2 linked regions of the Homo sapiens genome follow. The protein of the gene in region 1 purifies or fractionates together with the protein of each later gene. This does not show direct contact. Each region holds a gene or a part of one and is shown in the gene's direction. Other genes may lie near its edges. The genes, in order: CACFD1 and TM9SF3.

Evidence for each region.
Region 2: the proteins of CACFD1 (region 1) and TM9SF3 purify together in Homo sapiens (affinity purification with mass spectrometry; one large-scale study listed by BioGRID and IntAct). This does not show direct contact.

The regions. Positions count from the first base shown.
Region 1 is NC_000009.12:133,466,334-133,470,149, forward strand, and holds part of CACFD1 (calcium channel flower homolog), read left to right. Parts: exon of another isoform or gene 1-1,587; coding exon 1,588-1,695; exon of another isoform or gene 1,696-1,909; intron 1,910-2,006; coding exon of another isoform or gene 2,007-2,131; intron 2,132-2,138; exon of another isoform or gene 2,139-2,229; coding exon 2,230-2,320; coding exon of another isoform or gene 2,321-2,378; 3' UTR 2,379-3,816. UniProt on the Homo sapiens protein: Transmembrane protein which mediates synaptic endocytosis and fitness-based cell culling.
Region 2 is NC_000010.11:96,531,447-96,535,262, reverse strand, and holds part of TM9SF3 (transmembrane 9 superfamily member 3 precursor), read left to right. Parts: intron 1-2,072; coding exon 2,073-2,212; intron 2,213-3,816.

The DNA.
Region 1 (3,816 bases):
GCCTGCTAATCTTCTGATGTGTGTGCTTCCTGTCTGCAGGCATTTTTTAAAAGCCTGCTTTTAACACAGTTATAACCATTATGAATAAGTTTGTATCCTGCCTTTTTTCACTTAGAGTAATGATATAAGCATTTGAACATCACCACAGACTTTATAACATTCTTTCAATACAGGAATATTCATTCAGCTGGATGTATCATGCTGTTCTTAATTTCTTAACTGGTGTAAATCGAGGTGTGATAAACATGTGTCTGCTAAAACTTTTTCTGTGTTTATGATGATTTCCTTAATATCTATTTTCAGGTGTGGAATTACTGGGTCAAAGATTCTGATCATTAAAAATATTTTAAGATGCGTGGCTACGTTGCTTTCCAAAGAGGTCCCTTGAGTCTCTCCCCCGCCCCCACCCCAGCCCAGGGCTGCACACCACTTCACATTCGCATTTATCTATTTGTTATCTAAGAGGGAAAAATATTTTCCCACGTGTTTCCATTGCATTTTCTGATATGAAAATTTTCGAGTTTACTTTTTAACCTGTGGGAACCTCAGTGTTCTGCTTAGCAAGTTCAGTGTGTTTTCTGTATTAAAGATTTCATGATCCTTGGTTGTATTTCCTGCAACTATTTTTCCAGGCTCTTGTTTGCCTTTAATTTTGTTTTTGTCAGAAGGTTCCCCGCCGTGGTCTTTTTCTTTGTAATTTCTATTATTATTTTATCATTTTGAAATTTTTTAACGACAGAAAAATCTCACAACCACATGTCTACAAGAATGGAAACTGAGGTAGAATGCAATTGGCCACGAGTCTTGTCCTCCTGCACAGGCAGCCTCCTCTAGGGAGGCGACAGGACAGAGCGCTGGCCTCCAGGCTGCAGGTATCCTCCTGGCCCAGTTAGCCCAGGAATTGCTGCTGGCCTGGAAATTCCAGCCAGGATGGAGAATCAGCCCCGGGGACGCTTAAGCCCCAGTGGACCCTGCCACCAGGTGACGCCAAACTGCAGCAAGGTCTGGGCCGACCCCGCAGACCCCGCAGCCTGCAGCCCTCCCATGATGAGACCCTGTGTTCCATGTGGTTGAATTCCAGGGACCTTACTTGTGGCGATGTGGCTGGTGTTACTCTATAACTCAGAGCATTTATTTAGTGCCTGTGGTGGTCAGCATTGTGTAGGTAACATGACTGACCTCGGACAAGCTTTGATCCCCTCTCCGCGGTGGAGATTCCGAGTAACTTGCCCGCGAAGCTAGTAGGTCCTGGATGGGAAGCCAGATTCTCTGTCACAGGCTCTTTCTGGCCAGTTTTTCTCACAGTGAGGGCACTGGACCATCTCGTTACTGTTTAGCTCTTTTTGGGATCACAGACCCCTTCAAAAATCTGATGAAAGCTTTGGATCCTATTCCCAGAATGGAACAGTTTTACAGACAAGTTCAGGGCTGATGAAGGACTTTCTGAAGCTGTGTCTCAGTTGATTTTTGGGGATCCTTCCTGTGCCCTGGGTGTCTAGGAAGGATGCTGGGCCGAGTCTGGGAAGCGGGGAAGGATGTGGTGGCTGTGGGGCCGGAGTGCCCCCTTGACCTCTGCTTTCCCCCCAGGATGGCGGTCGTTCCCATCGTCATCAGCCTGACCCTGACCACGCTGCTGGGCAACGCCATCGCCTTTGCTACGGGGGTGCTGTACGGACTCTCTGCTCTGGGCAAAAAGTGCGTCTGCCAGGCCCAGCCCCTGGGCAGGGCCTTCCTCCCTCCGCCCCCCGAAGTCCTTCAGTGAGGAGGATCTGAGAGTGGCCCCTTTTAGCTAGTGGAGACCGAGGCAGAGGTCCCAGTAACTCATTGGTGCCTCCAGGGCTCAGCTCGAGTGGGTGAAGACAGAGGACTTACAACACTTCTGCGTGGCCCAGTCTTGCCCCGTCACGGCCTGCAGCAAGGATAGCAAAAACATGGCTGGTGGGAGCCCCTTCCCCTCCCAGGTCTGCACCGGGCATTGTACTCAGTTGCCACCCTCTCTCCTGCAGAGCCCAGACTGAGGCTGGTTCCTTCGCAGCCCAGCATCCCAGGGAGCCTGGGCCATTCTCAGAGGGGACAAGACAGGCCTTTGCCACCCCAGCAGTTGTCTCTGGGGAAATCAGAATGCCTGCAGGTCACACCTGGGTCACAGGGCAGGAACCGGGCAGTGGTCAGGAGGGCTGTGGGCATGGGGCTGGTGCTCCACGTGACGCTGCCTCTCTCTCTCCCCAGGGGCGATGCGATCTCCTATGCCAGGATCCAGCAGCAGAGGCAGCAGGCGGATGAGGAGAAGCTCGCGGAGACCCTGGAGGGGGAGCTGTGAAGGGCTGGGCGCCCCTCCCTCCCTGTCCCCTCTTCTGGCTCTGTGTGGGTCCAAGTGAGGCCTGGACTGTCCACGCTGAGGCACAGCCTGGAGAGGGGCCTTTGCACGTGTCCCTACACCTGGAGTCCTCTGCTCCTTTCTCCAGACTGGCTTAAGCCAGGAGCCACTGGCTGCTGGTGTGAGGGTCTGGGCTGCTGGACTTGAGGCAGAGCCTGCAGCAGCTGTGTGGACACTACCCAGCCCTACTCCTCTGCTGGGTGGGTCTGCAGATCTCACACCACAGACAGGGCTGCCTGTGACCTGCTGTGACCTGGGAGCAGCTTCCCCTGGAGATGCTGGTCCTGGCTTGAGGGGAGGGGCAAGTGGGACCCTGCCACCTGGGCACTGAGCAGAGGGACCTCCCCCAGCTCTCTTAGCAGGTGGAGCCCCAGGGCCTGGGACAGCCTGCCGCTGCCAGCAACCTCCCACTGCTGCCTAGGGTGCAGCGCCCACTGTCACCCTGCCTTCTGAAGAAGCCCACAGGGCTCCTAAGGTGCACCCCGGTACCTGGAACTGCAGCCTTGGCAGTGACTGGACAGCTGGGTGGGGGATGCTCCCTGCTGGCCCTGGGAACCTTGGACAGGCCACCTCAAGGCCCCTCGGCTGCCCCTCCTCCCTGGGCCTGCTGGGGCCCCTAGGTTCTGCCCATCACCCCCCGCCCCTGCTGGCCTTGGTGCTAAGGAAGTGGGGAGAGCAGGCTCTCCCTGGCACCGAGGGTGCCCACCCTCTCCCTGGTGTGGCCCCGTCAACATCAGCCACAGCCCAGCCCCATTAGTGGGTTAGTGGGTCTGACCTCAGCCCCACTCAGGTGCTCCTGCTGGCCTGCCCAAGCCCTGCCCTCAGGGAGCTTCTGCCTTTTAAGAACTGGGCAGAGGCCACAGTCACCTCCCCACACAGAGCTGTCCCCACTGCCCTGGGTGCCAGGCTGTCCGGAGCCAGGCCTACCCAGGGAGGATGCAGAGAGCTGGTGCCCAGGATGTGCACCCCCATATTCCCTCTGCCCTGTGGCCTCAGCCCGCTGGCCTCTCTGACCGTGAGGCTGGCTCTCAGCCATCGGGCAGGTGCCTGGTCGGGCCTGGCTTAGCCCAGGTGGGGTTTGGCAGAAGCGGGCGGGTGTGGAAGATATTCCATCTGGGGCCAACCCCAGGCTGGGCCTGCGCTGAGCTTCTGGAGCGCAGGTACTGGGTCTTGCTAAGTGAACTGTTTCCCAGGAACACCTCTCGGGCCCATCTGCGTCTGAGGCTGGGAGTGGCATCTGAGGCCGGGAGTGGCATCTGAGGCCAGGAGTGGCAGGCTGGTGGGCTGGGCGTGGGGTTTTCTGGGCCCTGCCCAGTACTGCCCTGGGGACTTGGTGGGCTCCTGGGTCAGCAGCATCCCACCCCTGGGAGTCTGGCCAGCTGAGCCCCAGGGTGGCAGGGGCATTATAGCCTGGTGGACATGTGCCTTCAGGGTTCCTC
Region 2 (3,816 bases), on another chromosome or scaffold:
GTAGGGAACTGGTTTCACAGCTTAATCACTATTTCTAACAAACTGCTCACATTTTTTATCATATATTAAAAAGTTGGACAACAAAAGGGAAAATATTGACAAATGCTAAGCAATTGATAATGTCTTTTTGAGACTGTAGATTCCTTTATTGACTGTTATGTGCACAGAAGGCAAGATGTGCCCTCACTTCAGCTGCCACTCAATTGCCTGTCACACACATTGTGCTGTAGTAGTACTTTTGCTTATACAATTTTTAGTGAACAAATATGTGCAGGCCTTAATTGGGATGAGGTGAAGGAGATAGAATAAAAGACCAATATAGCATTACAAGCCTTCCTAATCAATGACAAAATTCATTCAGTTCAGTATATACACAGAGATAAGCAGGAGAAACTTTATTCTGAGATTTGCATGAAAATGAGTTAACCTGGCTGTGATATCTCCAGTATACTGATATTTGGTATAGAACTCCTTTGAGCTATATATATCTTATTACAGTTGAAAGTGTTTTAAAAAGAAACTATTTTCAAAAGGATACTCAAATCAAATGCTTGTGGAATCCCAGAAGCTCTTCAGTAGGACCTGAGAGTTCTTTGGAACAGTTTGAAAACCATTCTTCTAGACCATGTAATTCAACATAGGAATGTTTTCTTCATTTTCTCTGTAATTCTTATTTGAAATTAGAGTTCTGGTAAACTAAGGGAAAAATATATAGGTCTTTATTACAATGTGTTAAGGTTTATGAGTCTTGTAGTTATTAAGAAAGTAAAAGCAAAAATTGAGATGGAATTTATCACTCCCCATATTTACGACATATGTATAGTTCATAACATAATGCTTAAACTATCTTAAAAACACCTGCTTATTTTTCACATTTCACGTATTTTAATATGAGCATAAATTCATATTATTCATAGGCCTAGGCCTAAACTGAAACGCAGATAAATTGAGTTCCTGAGTCTGATGTTTAAAATGGTATTATGGAGCTCTGTAATTCTCACATATTTATATTTGATCTGAAAAGGAGATGACAGTACCCTTTGGCTTGTTTAAAAACACATATACACACACAAAAGGATCTAATGAAGAATTTTTACTAATATTGGTTCAAAGAGATCTTTCCTTCTTGTGCAATCACTGTGGATTTCCTACCCCATACCTCTTCATTTCTCTCAATCAGTGTCTTCACATGTTTCATTCAGTTTTTCTCTCACTTTTACTTTCTATTTATTATAACCTAAAGTGTATAATTTAAAGACATCTTAGAGGTGATTCAATTCTACTCCATTTTACAGAAGTTCAGAGTGAAATGATCTTAATTAGATGGTTGGCCGGAAAAGAGCTGATTTTATAAAGAAAAAAAGTCACAAAAATAAATGTTTCTAATTGGCCACTTTGGTTCTAAAATCTCCGTATGGTCTTCTCTGTAATTTTAGACTTTGCACTACTAATGGGCAGGAAAATATTTGTACTATTTTACTAGTGACACATAGATAGCGATCTCCTTCTATTAGGATTCCAAGGTAGTGTAGGATAGAAAAGAGTGTGGGCTTTGAGGCTGGCAGATCTGAGTTGAAATTTTGGTCTGGCTCTCCACTAGCTATGCAATTATGGGAAGTTACTTATCCTTCTCTGAGTCTCCTTTCCTTCATTTGCAAAATAAGAAAATAACACATATAAAGCTCTTAGTGCATTTTATGAGCTCAAAAAGCATAGCCAGATAAGTAAGTTGGTTATAATAATGAAAGACAATGGATAAATATATTAAAAAAGCATGACAGCTGAGAGTGAAAGAGGAGAAAAAGGGATTGTGGCAGAGATAGTCTGGAAGAATAGGAAAGAATGGAAAACCAAATTGGATAAGAACTAGTTCAACTTGTATTCAGTTTAGTTCTAATACTTTAAAGCACACCTTTTTGTTTTCATTAGTGTACTTCTTGCACAATTTTAGCTCATATTGAACTTAAACATTTTCTTTTGTGGTCAAATTGTGTTTAAATTGTGTCTCTTTTATTTGTTTATATTAATGTTATTGTTCTCTGAGTAATCACACATTTTTATTTAATTTACAGGTGGCCGTTTGTTGCATCTGTTTTTTTGTTATTCTTCCTCTAAATCTTGTTGGTACAATACTTGGCCGAAATCTGTCAGGTCAGCCCAACTTTCCTTGTCGTGTCAATGCTGTGCCTCGTCCTATACCGGAGAAAAAATGGTAAAGAGAATGCTAAATCTTATGCGATTGTTTCACACAATATATAAGTTCTTAAGGCTGTTGTGTACATGTAACTTTAGAATTGGTATGTATTTATGATAATGACAATCTTAAGTTTGAGCCTAAGAAGTTCATTTTACTATTTCCTTTAACCTACATTGTTAAGAGTAATAATAAATTATACCCTTATTCCACTTTCTGAATATCGTGCCATTTAGAGTTAAGTCAAATGCTTTTCTATGGTGTAGAAGTGGGTGTGAACTAAAGCTGCAGTTTTACTAATCTGCAGGCCAAATCTGGCCTGCTCCCTGTTTTTATCTATAAAGTTTTGTTGGAACTCAGCCATGCCCATTTGTTTACATATTCTCTGTGGCTGCTTTTATAGTACAGCATCAGAGCTGGCAGATCAGTAATGTCAGAGATACTATCACATGCAGAACCTGAAATATTTACTATCTTTCCAGATATTTTAGTACTGTACAATTTAGTGTACATTTATTACATTCCCTATTTATAGGAATAGTTGTATAGTAAGTAGACTGCATTTTTATGATAACGGAGATATATATATATAAAGTCTCTGTCCCTAGATATTTTACCAGATTATAAATACAGCATATTCAGGTGCTTATACAAATAGGTGATAATTTTGCTCTGTCCCTTCTAGACATGGAGGCATGTAGACATTTATAGAAATGGAGGATGAATAAAATAGCCCCTATAGTTTGAATTGGCCATATTCTTTTCTTTCCTTAGATTGGTGCTTATGAGAGACTTTAGTTAGAACTTTTGTAGTTTATTATTTTATTTATTTATTTATTTTATTATTATTATTATTTTTGAGATGAGGTCTCACTCTGTGGCCCAGGCTGGAGTGCAGTGGTGTGATCTCGGCTCACTGCAAGCTCCACTTCCTGGATTCATGCCATTCTTCCGCCTCAGCCTCCCGAGTAACTGGGACTACAGGTGCCCGCCACCACGCCTGGCTAATTTTTTGTATTTTTAGTAGAGATGGGGTTTCACCGTGTTAGCCAGGATGGTCTCGATCTACTAACCTCGTGATCTGCCCACCTCGGTCTCCCAAAGTGCTGGGATTACAGGCGTAAGCCACCACGCCCAGCCTGTAGTTTATTTTTTAAAGTAATTTTTTTTTTGTAAATCAGTATGTTAGGACCCATCAATATCCTTACTGGGAAGGGTAAGTTTAAAGGAAAAGCATAGTCAGAAGTCACAAAAGTTCCTCTAAGTCACTAGGGCCAGTGAAGGAGAGGTCTGGTGAGAGCTTCCTCACCAGAGATGCATTGCAATTAGGTATAGGAAGGCTTGTGTGTGCCTCTGTTTTGGGGAGTATAATCCTGGGAACCTAAATCTGAATACTAGATCTGCCTCTCATTGACTGTGTCACCTTGGGCAGATCACTTTTAACCTCTGTGTCTTGGCTTCCTGTAAAGTAAGGAAAGAAGACTACATTAAATGATTTTTAAGTTTTTTTTTCAGCTCTCAAATTTTACCATTTTCTTCTCAGTTTTTTAGTTTGTTAATTTCATAGTTATTAGTTTAGGATCTTTTTTGTGCCAGGTATTGTGCTAGGCACTGGAAATACC